Linked DNA regions of Homo sapiens. The protein of the gene in region 1 purifies or fractionates together with the protein of each later gene. This does not show direct contact. Each region holds a gene or a part of one and is shown in the gene's direction. Other genes may lie near its edges. The genes, in order: CBR4, ZNG1B, MCCC1 and CYP24A1.

What was found.
Region 2: the proteins of CBR4 (region 1) and ZNG1B purify together in Homo sapiens (affinity purification with mass spectrometry; one large-scale study listed by BioGRID and IntAct). This does not show direct contact.
Region 3: the proteins of CBR4 (region 1) and MCCC1 purify together in Homo sapiens (affinity purification with mass spectrometry; one large-scale study listed by BioGRID and IntAct). This does not show direct contact.
Region 4: the proteins of CBR4 (region 1) and CYP24A1 purify together in Homo sapiens (affinity purification with mass spectrometry; one large-scale study listed by BioGRID and IntAct). This does not show direct contact.

What each region holds. Positions count from the first base shown.
Region 1 is NC_000004.12:168,990,155-168,993,307, reverse strand, and holds part of CBR4 (3-oxoacyl-[acyl-carrier-protein] reductase), read left to right. Parts: intron 1-2,979; coding exon 2,980-3,153. UniProt on the Homo sapiens protein: Component of the heterotetramer complex KAR (3-ketoacyl-[acyl carrier protein] reductase or 3-ketoacyl-[ACP] reductase) that forms part of the mitochondrial fatty acid synthase (mtFAS).
Region 2 is NC_000002.12:113,440,675-113,444,244, forward strand, and holds part of ZNG1B (zinc-regulated GTPase metalloprotein activator 1B), read left to right. Parts: intron 1-676; coding exon 677-763; intron 764-3,092; coding exon 3,093-3,189; intron 3,190-3,570. UniProt on the Homo sapiens protein: Zinc chaperone that directly transfers zinc cofactor to target metalloproteins, thereby activating them.
Region 3 is NC_000003.12:183,068,482-183,072,051, reverse strand, and holds part of MCCC1 (methylcrotonoyl-CoA carboxylase subunit alpha, mitochondrial isoform 1 precursor), read left to right. Parts: intron 1-694; coding exon 695-842; intron 843-931; coding exon 932-1,053; intron 1,054-3,570.
Region 4 is NC_000020.11:54,171,138-54,175,356, reverse strand, and holds the start of CYP24A1 (1,25-dihydroxyvitamin D(3) 24-hydroxylase, mitochondrial isoform 1 precursor), read left to right. Parts: upstream 1-1,370; 5' UTR 1,371-1,777; coding exon 1,778-2,035; intron 2,036-2,257; coding exon 2,258-2,448; intron 2,449-3,686; coding exon 3,687-3,780; intron 3,781-4,219.

The sequences.
Region 1 (3,153 bases):
ACCCAGGAGGCGGAGGTTGCGGTGAGCCTAGATCGCACCACTGCATTCCAGCCTGGTGACAGAGTGAGACTCTTGTCTCAAAAAAAAAAAAAAAAGGAAAATACATGTGTCTAAAGACAGAAAACTTTGGACAGCGAGAACCCCCATGATATTGTTCTTAAGCTGATTGGATTGCCTGTTGATTATTGTGGCTCTTCACTGTAAATTAAGTTTCATTTATAGTTTGTTGGAAATTCTGCAGAGGCTAGTATCAATATCTGTGTTAGCTGCTTCTCCTTTTATTCTTGCATTCCTTCTGGCCTTCTCATTCTTCTTAAAGATGAGAGGATATGAAGGAAATATTGCTGACTTTTAAAATAAATGTGGTAAGATGTTATGGCAGAGAAGACTGTATTTCACTGTGTAATTTCACAGTGAAACATACATAATACAAAATTAGTTTTGTTATTCCAGGCCTTCATTACAGACTATCTGAAGGTAGTACTGTGTGCATTTTTTCAACAACTTTTTATCTGAATACAAAAATAATATATATATCTGTTGTAGACAGTTTGGAAAGAGCAGAAAAATATAAAGAAAATAAAAATCATTACCTGTAATTCTAGTATCTAATGATAATCACTGTTAATATTTTGGTATATAGTACTTTTTTCAGTCATTAGTATAAGTTCTTTGTTGTGTTTTTAATAGTGGTATAACTTAATTCATTTGTAACCTACATTTTATACACAAATGTTACTTTCAGATTTAAGTATCCTTCTATAGCATAATTTTTATTTTTTATTTTTATCTTATTCATTTATTTGTATAAATACAAATGAATGCAGGTGCAGATGCAGTTTGGTTATATGCATAGATTTCATAGTGGGAAGTCAGGGCTTTTAGGGTATCTGTCACCTGAATAACACCCATTGTACCTATTAGGTAATTTCTTATTCACCTCTGTCCCACCCTCTCACCCTTCTGAATCTCCATTGTGATCACATCCATGTGTACACATTCTTTAGCTCCCAGTTACAAGTGAGAACATATAGCATTATTTTTAATACCTGCATTATTCTGTTGTATGGCTGTATCATAACTTATTTAACCAGTTTCTTATTGAAAGACATTCAGCTTGTTTCAGTTTTTTCCTAATGAAAGTGTCATTCATAAGCTTCATGATAGACAAATCTGTGAATATTTTTCACAAGACTTTTAAGAAAATGCGTAGATATTTATAACTGCAAACCTAAAGAAAGGAAAGTTAAGTAATTACATAGTATTGCATAATAAACCAATGGCCTAATGTTAATTCTTAATTCATTGTTTACTTCACATTTATTATGGTACTTTAAAAGGTAATATATTTAGGTTTATCTATAGTTTGAGCTATAAATGATTTAGTTTTAACAGGCAATTTGAAAACTGTATTTTTGAGATTGCACATTAAATGTTTACTTCACACGTCATGTTGAAGTTTTAGTCCATCTATTTTTCATGACCTTAAAAATTTTTTTCTATTCTTTTCATGAGGATTAATATTGCTTTCTTTTTAAAAACCCAAATGATTGAGTAATATACAGGATACTGATTATATGGGCTAAGCATTTTATTAATACGTATTTGTATGTCCTGTATTAATCTTGTAAGATTTTCTTCATAAGTCTACAGTTCTCCCTGGTATGTATTTGTAGTTATTTAGGATTGGTTGGTTATATATTATGTAGTTAGTTCTTTATACTGTAGAACCTAATACATTCTTTAGAACATTTTCTTGGCAGGCTTTACTGAATTTGAATTTTCTATGTTTACTTGTATCAGAATTGGATATGACCGTAAGATTTTAAAATCCAGATATGGGAAATACTGGCCTTTCTAATCATCAGCTACCAAATCAGTTCATGTGACCACTTTTGTGATGCCTTCCTTCCCTTGACACTACTTTCTACTTTTCTATCCCTACCTAAGTGAAAATTAATGTATTCTATGATATTTTATATATACTTCTATCAGGATATTCACCAGACTTCTTTACGTTATAATCGGGTGTGCAAGTGACCATTTCCTCCACAAATCATAGGTTCCCCAAAGAGTGGAATTTTGTTTTATTCATGTTTGTGTCTACCTACTTATATTTTGCTAGGTGGGCCAGATACTTGGGGGTCAGATATTTTAGTGTCCAATAAATATTCATTGAGTTAAATTGTATAAAAATGTAGGCTTGGTGTCTTGATTACTAACAAAACTATTTTGTTTTGTTTTGCTTTTTTTGAGATGGAGTTTCACTCTTGTCGCTGAGGCTGGAGTGCAGTGACACAATCTCGGCTCACTCCAACCTCCACCTCCCAGGTTCAAGCGATTCTCCTGCCTCAGCCTCCTGAGTAGCTGGGATTACAGGCGTCCACCACCACCCCCAGCTAATTTTTTGTATTTTTAGTAGAGACGGGGTTTCACCATGTTGGGCAGGCTGGTCTCGAACTCCTGCCCTCAGGTGATCTGCCCACCTCGGCCTCCCAAAGTGCTGGGATTACAGTCATGAGCCACTGCACCTGGCCAACAAAACTATTTTATATAAACAAGGTTTATTAATAATTTCAAATTATAGGGTGGGTATGGTGGCTCATGCCTGTAATCCCAGCACTTTGGGAGGCTGAGGTGGGCCGATCCCTTGAGTCCAGAAGTTTGAGATCAGCCTGGCCCAACTCTACAAAAAGTACAAAAACTAGCCAGGTGTGGTGGTGCATGCCTATAGTCCCAGCTACTTGGGAGGCTGAGGCAAGAGGATCACCTGTGCCCCAGAGGTCCAGGCTGCAGTGAGTCGTGTTTGCACCACTGCATTCTAGCTTGGGTGACAGAGTGAGACCCTGTCTCAAAAAAAAATTTTTTTTTAAATAATTTCAAATTAAAATTTTCAGAAACAAATTTATTATTTTTTTTGAAATTCAGCAGATGTCTTAGTGTGTACCCTTTTCAACTAAACAAACATTTCTCTTTTAGGATTTGTACACACAGATATGACGAAAGACTTGAAAGAAGAACATTTAAAGAAAAATATTCCTCTTGGGAGGTTTGGAGAAACTATTGAGGTGGCACATGCGGTTGTGTTTCTTTTAGAATCACCGTATATTACAGGGCATGTTCTGGTAGTGGATGGGGGATTACAACTCATTT
Region 2 (3,570 bases), on another chromosome or scaffold:
TTTAGCAGCACTGTAATAGTAAAACACTGGAAACAAACCAAATGTCCAACAAAAAAAAAAGATAAAGAAATGATATAGTCATACAATTGAACTACAATACTATGCAGTTAGGATTTTCTTTTTTTCCTCTATGAATTTTAGTGTGTACGGTTCACAAGACTATTTTTTTTCTACTGGAGATTGACATATTGGGTTTTATATGCCACCTGCTGGATAAAGTTGGTATAGCTTTATGAATTTATCTTACTGAACATTCTGTCCATTGTTGACACTACCTGGCTCTATTCCCCATTTCATAAAAACTTTTATAGATTGTTTAAAGCATACTATAAGTAGCCATATAGTCAGCCTGAAGTTGCGTCTTGTTAATGTTGAAATAAAAGGTCATTATAAATAAAAGATTGTGTGTAAATTTTAGGGAAGGTTAGGCTAGGTTGAAGAAACTGTTTCAACTTGTAGGAGTGTTTGTAAATATTTATAAAATTTTATGTCTACATAAAGTATTTTGCAACAGGTTTCAAAGGATGCTTTAATCTTATCCTCTAGGATATTCTATACTAAAATAATATATGAAAAATAGCACGCAAATTCTCAAAAACGTTAGGATTCTTTATATGTTTTTTGTATCTTTAAAATTATTTTGAATTTTTTTATTTACAAAAAATATGTTTTATAGGTGCTGGGAAGACAACACTTCTGAACTATATTTTGACAGAGCAACATAGTAAAAGAGTAGCGGTCATTTTAAATGAATTTGGGGAAGGTAAGTAAAGTTCAATAAATGTCATGTTGCAAGATTTTGTGTGACTGTTTATTCCTCTGGTGAATTGCTATTCCATATTTAAAAATGAAAATGCAAGGTATTGTATTGATGTGGATAGCTTTAGAAAAGTTGGATTAATTTCTGTTAAGATTTATATGGGTTGAGATACTGAAATTAGTTTTAATAAAATTTTATTTTGTATAACTTTGGAATTCTTATTAACAGAATTAAACTACATTTTTACATGAAATAAATGACTCCAGAAGTAAAAATCTAGACATATGAAAAAACGTTTATTTTTTATTTTATTTTATTTTTTTTGAGATGGAGTCTCTCTCTGTCGCCAGGCTGGAGTGCAGTGGTGCAATCTCAGCTCACTGCCACCTCTGTCTCCTGGGTTAAAGTGATTCTCCTGCCTCAGCCTCCCGAGTAGCTGGGACTACAGGCGTGCGCCACCATGCCCAGATAATTTTTGTATTTTTAGTAGAGACAGGGTTTCACCATGTTGGCCAGGATGGTCTTGAGCTCCTGGCCTTGTGATCCACCTGCCTCGGCCTCCCAAAGTTGCTGGGATTACAGGCATGAGGCACCATGCCTGGCCAAAAAATGTTTTTTTTAGGAATTAGGAAGGCACTTTTGTATGGACTCTATTGCAACTCATGAAAAATACTTGAAAATGCTTCTGTTATTAGTTAACTTTGTTTAATGTTTATTATCTGCAATGCAGTTAAAACTCAATATTTTAAAAATAAAGGTAAACATATGGTCTTTATCCTCATGTATTTTAAGTTATCTGTGAAAATAAGTGTGCTTAACTTCTCAACTGAAATATTAAACTGTAGTCAAAAAAATAGCTCTAGACACAATACTTCTGTTATCTTTATAGAAGTTTTTCTTCATAAGTATGAATTGTAATCAAAGCTCACTTCTAGCCAAAAAACAATATCTATTAAATGATTTCTTTTAAAATGTACTATTTTTTTTCAGTTGTAAAAAGTAAAAGAGCTAGGTTTTATGAACAGGATGGGAAGCCAGTTATATTCGATTTCTGGTTTTAATAAACTAAAGAGAAAAGTGCTTTTTAGGCAAAAATCCTGAGATTTCTAATAACAGACTGTTTTTTTATCATCTTATTAAATAACCTATTGCACACTGATTACATTTATTCTTACTATTTTCTTTATTTTTTCCTGGATCATTTTCGCAATTTTATTTTTCACAGCATTCTCAATACTTTTCTTCATGTTTCCTTAATGTTCTGTATATAGTCCGAATTCTGTAGCAACCTCTTTAGAAGCTCTTTATTAATACCTAGCTGAAATATAAAAAATACGTAAGTGTAAAACTACTCGATTTTATGGGAGCTCATTTGCTTAGTGGGCTTTTAGAACTTCACCGTTTGGTATATTTCTTTATTAGAGGAAAAGTAAAACATTTAAAATAATTCTTATAGATAACAAGCATTTCAAATATAGTTTATTCTTTCTTAAGTAAGTATTGCTAGGAAAATATGTGAATTTGACTAAAAGTTTAGGTTTTTTTTTTTTTTGAGATGGAGTCTCGCTGTGTTGCCCAGGCTGGAGTGCAGTGGCACAGTCTCGGGTCACTGCAACCTCCGCCTCCCGGGTTCACGCCATTCTCCTGCCTCAGCCGCCTGAGTAGCTGGGACTACAGGCGCCCGCTACCACACCTGGCTAATTTTTTGTAATTTTAGTAGAGATGAGGTTTCATTGTGTTAGCGAGGATGGTCTCGATCTCCTGACCTCGTGATCCGCCCGCCTTGGCCTCCCTGTAAGTTTAATTTTTAAATGAGCACATGGTACACTGGCCAAAAACCTTCCTCAAGATGAACTAGGGTTTTTACTCATTGGGAATATTCAGCAGTTTGTCTAACAGAAACAATTTAGAAGAAGAATGAAAAGAAAAAGATAGATAAGGCAGTCTCTTAAGAGGTTGAAGGGCATACAAAATCCAGTATATAAAACATACTAGTCTATTTAGAAAGTTTACCCTGGACAAGAAAAAAATGCCTTCAAGATAGCTACTTTATTAAGAAATGGGGGTGGCCAAGTAAGAGGCCTAAGGAGGAAGTAGGTATGTTTATCAGTTTAGGATGTGTCTTTTTCAGGGCTTAAGTCATCTTAAATAAAAGCTAACATAATGTAGTGTACTGTAATTTAGATATCGAGGCTGCATGAATAAAATGAAAGAATATAAGTTATAAAATGCAGTTTCTGCTTTAAGATCTCCATTATTGAGTTATCCTCATCTTTGTTTTTTGTTGGCTAATGGACATAAGCTAAAGAGTGCTGTTTGTTAATTATTCTAGGAAGTGCGCTGGAGAAATCCTTAGCTGTCAGCCAAGGTGGAGAGCTCTATGAAGAGTGGCTGGAACTTAGAAACGGTTGCCTCTGCTGTTCAGTGAAGTGAGGAATGTGTTTACTGTGTACATGGTTTACTAGAAATGTTTATTGATTATATTTCCAGCTTTAATTTTCTTGAGTAATTTAACTGAATTTACACAGTTTGCTTCATTGTATTTTCAAACAAATAGAAAATAAACTTATTAGGAAGCATTTTCTTAAAGTGTTTCTTGCTGTCTTTTCTATCTGCTCTAATGTTTTGGTCCTTTTATTGAGTTTTTATTGCTTTTGATGTCAGGGCTTATTTAATCTCTAGTGCATGAAAGTCTCATATGTAAAAAATGATTATTCTGAATTTAATCTGTCATTGGTCATATTTCTAAGTGTTCAACCTTATAAAAAAAATAAATGACTATCAAAAAAGAGAAAAACCTTACATTATGT
Region 3 (3,570 bases), on another chromosome or scaffold:
TACAAAATTTTTTAAAAATTCCAGGCATGGTGGCACGTGCCTGTGGGTCCAGCATCTTGGGAGGCTGAGGTGGGAGGATTGCTTGAGCCCAGGAGATCAAGGCTGCAGTGAGCTGTGATCACACCATCATACTTCAGTCTGGGTGACAGAGTAAGACCCCATCTCAAAAAAAAAAAAAAAAATTCAGCTGGGTATGGTGACACACACCTGTAGTCCCAGCTGCTTAGGAGGCTGAGGCAGAAGGATCACTTGAGCTCAGAAGTTTAAGGCTGTAGTGAAGTATAATTGCACCACTGCACTCTGGCATGGGCAACATTGTGAGACCCTGTCTCTAAAAAAAAAAAAGAAATAGTTTGTTTTACCTATAATATTTTAATTCTACCCTTCTGTTGTCATAGGCATAAGTTATTTATCTGTGACATAGAGAAATTCTATTGAGTTACAGAAAATACTTAATGTTTCTAATCAATATATTAGTATTTTGGGATTAAAAAATAGGGTGAGATGAGCTACCACATGAAATGAGGGAAACTAACTAATAGACATATTAAATTTGTATTATTTTGTCGTCTCAGACTCGATGTTTTCTTTAAAGAGTTCCATTGTAATTTATAGACTGGGCTATATTTATGTTTGTCTTGAATGAAATAATTTGTAGAATTTGGGGCATGTTGTTTTCTTTCCCACTCTAAAGCACATCCAAATCCATAATGGCTGCTGCTGGAGTACCTGTTGTGGAGGGTTATCATGGTGAGGACCAATCAGACCAGTGCCTGAAGGAACACGCCAGGAGAATTGGCTATCCTGTCATGATTAAAGCCGTCCGGGGTGGAGGAGGAAAAGTAAGATTGTGCATGCTTGTGTTTGCCAATTCAGGCTTGTCTTCTTTGTTTTATTTATGTTGTAGTCATAATCATCTTTTCTCTCTTAGGGAATGAGGATTGTTAGATCAGAACAAGAATTTCAAGAACAGTTAGAGTCAGCACGGAGAGAAGCTAAGAAGTCTTTCAATGATGATGCTATGCTGATCGAGAAGTTTGTAGACACACCGAGGTGGGTTGGCCTTATTTTTCTGACTCAGAGTTTAAAAATTAAATTATAAAAATAATGCATGCACATTCTATAAAATATAAAACTGTAGTAGTATATAAGTATATTATTACAAGTTTCCCAGTTCTGTCCTGTGATGTAACCACTGATTGTAGGATGGTATGCATTCTTCCAGCCATTTTCTATGTGAATAGAAACCTATATACATATACATACAGCAAACAAAATACATACCTAAGAACAGTGAATAGAATTTTTTTTTTTTTTTGGACGGAGTCTCTCATTCAGTTGCCCAGGCTGGAGTGCAGTGGCACGATCTCGGCTCATTGCAACCTCTGCCTCCCGAGTTCAAGCGATTGTCCTGCCTCAGCCTCCTAAGTAGCTGGAATTACAGGTATGCCCCACCATGCCTGGCTAATTTTTGTGTTTTTAGTAGAGATGGGGTTTTCCCATGTTGGTCAGGCAGGTCTCAAACTCCTGACCTCGTGATCCACCTGCCTCAGCCTCCCAAAGTGCTGGGATTACAGGCGTGAGCCACTGTGCCCGGCCAGTGAATAGAATCTTATACACTAATATTATATCACAGACATCTTTCCATGTCAGTAATTGTAGATCAGCCTCATTCTTTTTGTTGGTGACCTAGCGGTTCTATGATCTTGATATACCATTAATTCATTCAGTATGTTTCTTGTTGATGAAATTTAGGGTTTTTTTTCAATATTAGCAAATTATTGTAATAAATTCAGCTATATTTATAGAACTCTGTCAGTTGAGATGCTCAGGAAATGGAAGTAATTTTCTAAATTGAATTACAAGTGATATGCTGTTAATAGGAGCTAACACTTACATTGCACTTACCATGTGCCAGATTTTAAATATTTTACACATGCTAAATAATCTTGCTGTCCTTCTAATTCTAATATAATTCTTACAACAACCTCATTAGGTAAGTACTGTTTTCATTTTACAGGTGAGGACACTAAGCAACAGAATGGTTGTGTTGTGTTACTTTTCTGAGGTCACTCAGCTGTTAAGTAGTAAAGCTGAGATTTGAACCCAGGCACTTTGACTCCAGAGTTCATATCTAAGCCACTGCACTAAGCTACTTCTCTGGGTACCACTATAGCAAATGCAGTGTGAATCCCTATTTTTTTTTCTGGAATTTTATTTTCATGTTTGTTGTTTAAGATGCTGATTATAAAGTTTCTCATTTCATAGATTTTTATGACAATTGTTAAATTTTATATATATATGTGTGTGACCTGTAAGTCAAGTGAAAAGAATAATTTATTTGGGAACCATGACTGGAAAGAGATTTACCTTGAAGGTAACAGACTTGAAACTTCAGGCCCTTCTTTGACATTAATCTCTTCCAAGACCCTGACCTAATTTTGTATTTGCAGTTTTGTATTCTTCTCCTTAGAGAAGACCCCCAAATTGTTTTTTGTTTCAGGCCCTATAAAACAACTGTCCTGAGCATGGCATAGTAAATGAAATTCAATTAAGGCAAAAAAAAAGGGGGGGGCATTTCTAAGGTACATTGAAGGCTTCCTTTCAAGAAAGAATAGGCTAGCCATCCAAATCAGCATGCTCTTAAGTTAGAATTGTGGAGACATCAATAGCTTATTTCAGTAACTTATTTCAGAGACATCAATAGCTTATTTGAGTTATTATGTAACTCCATGCCTGCAGCATTTTTTGAATATGTAAGTTCTTTACTTATGAAATGTTAGCCATACATTGCGTCACATTATAATTTATTCCCCCAATAGCTGGAAAGCCCCTGGGAATCAAAGACCTGGTAGTATATACATTTTTATTTTTTGTATATATTGCCTGGCATACTACTTTCCTTGTAATAGGCATCAGTAATATTTTTTGAACTATAGAAGTAATATGAATACATTACAAATTTTTGGAAAATGCAGAAGATGGAAAACAACCCATAATTGTATTCTCCTAATTATTATTAATATTCTTATATACAGTCATGTGTTGCTTAATGACAGAGATACATTCTGAGAAATGCATTGTTAGGCAATTTCATTGTTGTGCACACATCATAGAGTGTCCTTACACAAACTGAGATAGTATAGTCAACTACACACCTAAGCTATGGTATAGCCTATTGCTCCTGAGCTACAAACCTGTACAAACGTTACTGTATTGAATACTGTAGGCATTTGTAACACAATGGTAAGTATTTGTGTATCTAAACATCTCAAAACATAGGAAAGGTAATGTATTGTGCTATTATGTCACTAAATGATAGGAATTTTTCAGCTCTATCATAATCTTATGAAATCACCATCCTATATGCAGTCTGGCATTGATGGAATGTCATTGTGTGGCACATTGTGTGACTCTATTTCTATTCTGTATTTCTAGTAATAACTTCTTTTTAATTGAAAGCAAGTTTATTAAGAAAGTAAAGGAATAAAGAATGGCTACTCCATAGACAGAGCAGCCCCAAGGGCTGCTGGTTGCCATTTTTATGGTTATTTCTTGATGATATGCTAA
Region 4 (4,219 bases), on another chromosome or scaffold:
TACAAGATTCATAAAGTTTAGTATATATCAATAGCTATTATTTTTATTAACATAAACAGTCATTAGCCCCTCCAGACAAATCAGAAATGATGGTGTTAAAGCTTAAGTTGGACTGCAAAAGATTTTTAAGAAACAAACTAGAGGCTTACAAAAGAATTTACCAGGGAAGGATTTGCCAACACTTGGGGCAAAAATGACTGAGACACGTAATTGAAAAGCAGGGCGAGGAAACAGAATGTCCCTCCCCTCCTCCCTGGCTGGTGGTAGTTTTGTATTGGATCAGGTTGAAAGGATTCGAGCCACTTTAAAACAATCAACAAAAATCTCCAACTTCCGTTCCTGAATTAGCAAAGCGAGTTCTACTCTTGCCAGCCGCGGTAACTCTAGAAATTGTGTATGTTTGTCACTGGACCTGCCTAGGACGCACCTTGGGGGAGAGGGGGAGTACTGGGGGCGGTGGTTTCAAGCTCTGTGTGCCCCTCCTTTGCACAAGGTAGTCGGTGTAGAAGAACAGAGGCGGGCAGTGGACATAGGGGAGGTGGCCCAGCCTGAATTCAAGCATCGTTGGTGCAAGCCACGCTCTCAAGGCGCATTTCCTAACTTCCTAAAGAAGTAACAACAGCAACTAACTTTTATTGACTGTTGACTATAGACAAGGCTTCGTTGTTGCCGCTTTACGTGCATTAATTCATTTAATCTGCAAAACAACCAAACATGAAACAGCAGGAAGGAAATTCTACAAACTCCCCTTCTTGCTCAAGTTAAGAAAGTCTCCTCTTCTGGTGCATTTCAGTAAGACTCAAATCCTCCCCACCCTGGGAGGCGCAGAAAGCCAAACTTCCTCCAAAAAAAAAAAGGCAAAAAAAAAAAAAAAATCACTTCAGTCCAGGCTGGGGGTATCTGGCTCCCCGGGAGGCGCCCGGGCTCCCCGGGGCCCTGGCAGACGCCGGCAGCTTTTCTGGGCCCGCACTCGGGGACCTCGCCCGCCCGGCATCGCGATTGTGCAAGCGCCGGGCGGCAACCACGGCCGCCGCTGCCGGCTCCTGCCCGCCGGGGGAGGGCGGGGAGGCGCGTTCGAAGCACACCCGGTGAACTCCGGGCTTCGCATGACTTCCTGGGGGTTATCTCCGGGGTGGAGTCTGCCGCCCCCACCCCACCTCCCGCGCCCAGCGAACATAGCCCCGGTCACCCCAGGCCCGGACGCCCTCGCTCACCTCGCTGACTCCATCCTCCTTCCACCCCCCCTCCCCTGGGTCCCGCGTCCCTCGGAGTCTGGCCAGCCGGGGGCCACTCCGCCCTCCTCTGCGTGCTCATTGGCCACCCAGGGCATGCTCTGTCTCCATAAATGCATGGTCCCTGGGCATAGGAACATGGAGAGGGACAGGAGGAAACGCAGCGCCAGCAGCATCTCATCTACCCTCCTTGACACCTCCCCGTGGCTCCAGCCAGACCCTAGAGGTCAGCCTTGCGGACCAACAGGAGGACTCCCAGCTTTCCCTTTTCAAGAGGTCCCCAGACACCGGCCACCCTCTTCCAGCCCCTGCGGCCAGTGCAAGGAGGCACCAATGCTCTGAGGCTGTCGCGTGGTGCAGCGTCGAGCATCCTCGCCGAGGTCCTTTCTGCTGCCTGTCCCGCCTCACCCCGCTCCATCACACCAGCTGGCCCTCTTTGCTTCCTTTTCCCAGAATCGTTAAGCCCCGACTCCCACTAGCACCTCGTACCAACCTCGCCCCACCCCATCCTCCTGCCTTCCCGCGCTCCGGTGTCCCCCGCTGCCATGAGCTCCCCCATCAGCAAGAGCCGCTCGCTTGCCGCCTTCCTGCAGCAGCTGCGCAGTCCGAGGCAGCCCCCGAGACTGGTGACATCTACGGCGTACACGTCCCCTCAGCCGCGAGAGGTGCCAGTCTGCCCGCTGACAGCTGGTGGCGAGACTCAGAACGCGGCCGCCCTGCCGGGCCCCACCAGCTGGCCACTGCTGGGCAGCCTGCTGCAGATTCTCTGGAAAGGGGGTCTCAAGAAACAGCACGACACCCTGGTAAACCCCTTTTCGCGCCCCTGACTCTCTCCTCCCTCTTCCGCCCTCCCAGTGGCGCTCCAAACCCTCCCCGACATGCGCGCCTCGGGCGCATGGTGCGCTTCGGCGTCTGGGCAGGGAGGGTCCCCGGTCCCCTAGGAGGAAGGAGGCGGGAGGAGGGAAAGCGCTTCGGGCACGGCGGAGGATGCGCGCTGACACCGCGCTGTGCCCGGCCGGCTGCAGGTGGAGTACCACAAGAAGTATGGCAAGATTTTCCGCATGAAGTTGGGTTCCTTTGAGTCGGTGCACCTGGGCTCGCCATGCCTGCTGGAAGCGCTGTACCGCACCGAGAGCGCGTACCCGCAGCGGCTGGAGATCAAACCGTGGAAGGCCTATCGCGACTACCGCAAAGAAGGCTACGGGCTGCTGATCCTGTGAGTCCAATCCGAGGGACCTGGGCATGCGGCCAGACCTGATGAGCCTGACGGCGCCTGGAAATTGTGAAGAGGCGGAGTTAGAGTTCCCTGGGGTTGGAAGCTTCTTACGTAGGGCGGATACCAAAGCCCCTCTCCCGTGCCATCGCAACCCTGAGCTCTTGTACAGATTAGAGTCGGTCCACGGAAAAGCCGTGCTGTGCACCCAGCACCTGCGTTCTCTCTGGCAACAGGGCAGGGCCACACCCTCCCATCAAAGAAACGCCAAAACAGGGTTGTACCAACTGTGGTGTTCAGACTCTTGGGCAGGATGAGGTTCTGAAGTCAGCGTACCAGGCAAACATCTTATACAAACAAAATTATCCCTTAAAACTCCCTGAAACACCTTGTAAGCTCAAAAGCGAGGAGTTAGCCTCTTTGGCTTTTTACAGTGACATTTTCTGCAGAGGATTGGGGGACATGCCTTATTTCTACTTGTAAAGGTGGAATAAGGAGGGATATCAAAGTTGTGTTTTAGGTCGACAAATGCTACTATGGGATGTGATTCTTCTGCTTTTTAGTTGTTAGCATTTAACAAGTTAGCACCTTTATTTACCCCCAAACTGTAATGCCTAATCGTTATATTTTCCAGGATATAATGACTGGAATTAAAAACCCTATTAATTCACGGTGCTTCACAGGCTGTATGGTCTGCTATGGGGCAGGTGCCTACAAGTGCACGATCGCAAAAGGCTTTTTATTACTCCAGTGACTCTCTGACTGTATGTTATTATTTGGAGGCGATGGCAAAATTCTAAATCTGAGATATTTTGTAAATATGAAGCCCACACCAATGAGTTGAAAGAAGACAAGATTCTTCCCTCAAACAGATCTGAGTTGCTGGTGATGGGGTGTTCACATGCCCCCTTTTACCGCTAGGAATTGTCCCCAGGCCTCCCAGCCCCACTCCCTGCAAGGACACCTCAAAATCCCTGAACCCAAATTATCTGGACTTCAACTTTTTGGTGCAATCTTTGACTAGGAGGAAAGGTGCTTTTTCATCCTATTGTCAAACTATTGTCAAAAGATGATCACTATTTTATCCCAAATATTCTGATGCTAATATTCTCTGGCTATTTCTTGGCATGATTCTCAGTGTTTGTTTGATTTTATGGTTCCTGAAGTTGCAGCTGGAGTATTTCTGCATCTCCTTCTTTTCTTTTCAGTGTGCTCTAAATGTATTCCTGCTTCTCTCACAGGGAAGGGGAAGACTGGCAGCGGGTCCGGAGTGCCTTTCAAAAGAAACTAATGAAACCAGGGGAAGTGATGAAGCTGGACAACAAAATCAATGAGGTCTGCAGGCTGGGGCCAGCTTTCCTGGGGCTCGTGGGGACATAGGGATATTGGTGGAGCTTCAAGTCACAGCTACAAAGAACAAAGGAAAAAAGAATGCAATTCGGGTGATTCAAAGTGGGGGTCTTCTCTTTCTCTCCATTCCTTCCTACAGCCTCCTCCCCACCAAACCCTTATTTCTCCCTCCTCCACCCTCTTTTAAAGTCATATCACAATGAGGGAGCAATGGAGAGTGTGGACTTTGGTATTCTACAGCCCTGGATTTGAACCCCAGCTTTCCACTCCCTGGCTATGAGACCTGGCTATATACCACTTACCTTCCCTAAGCCTCAGTTTCCCCATCTACAAAATGGGAGTAACAGTTCCCACCCCACGGGTTTGCTGTGAGAATTAAATGAGATAACATTGTAAAGTTCTTAAGTAGTGATATTTGAGCTGG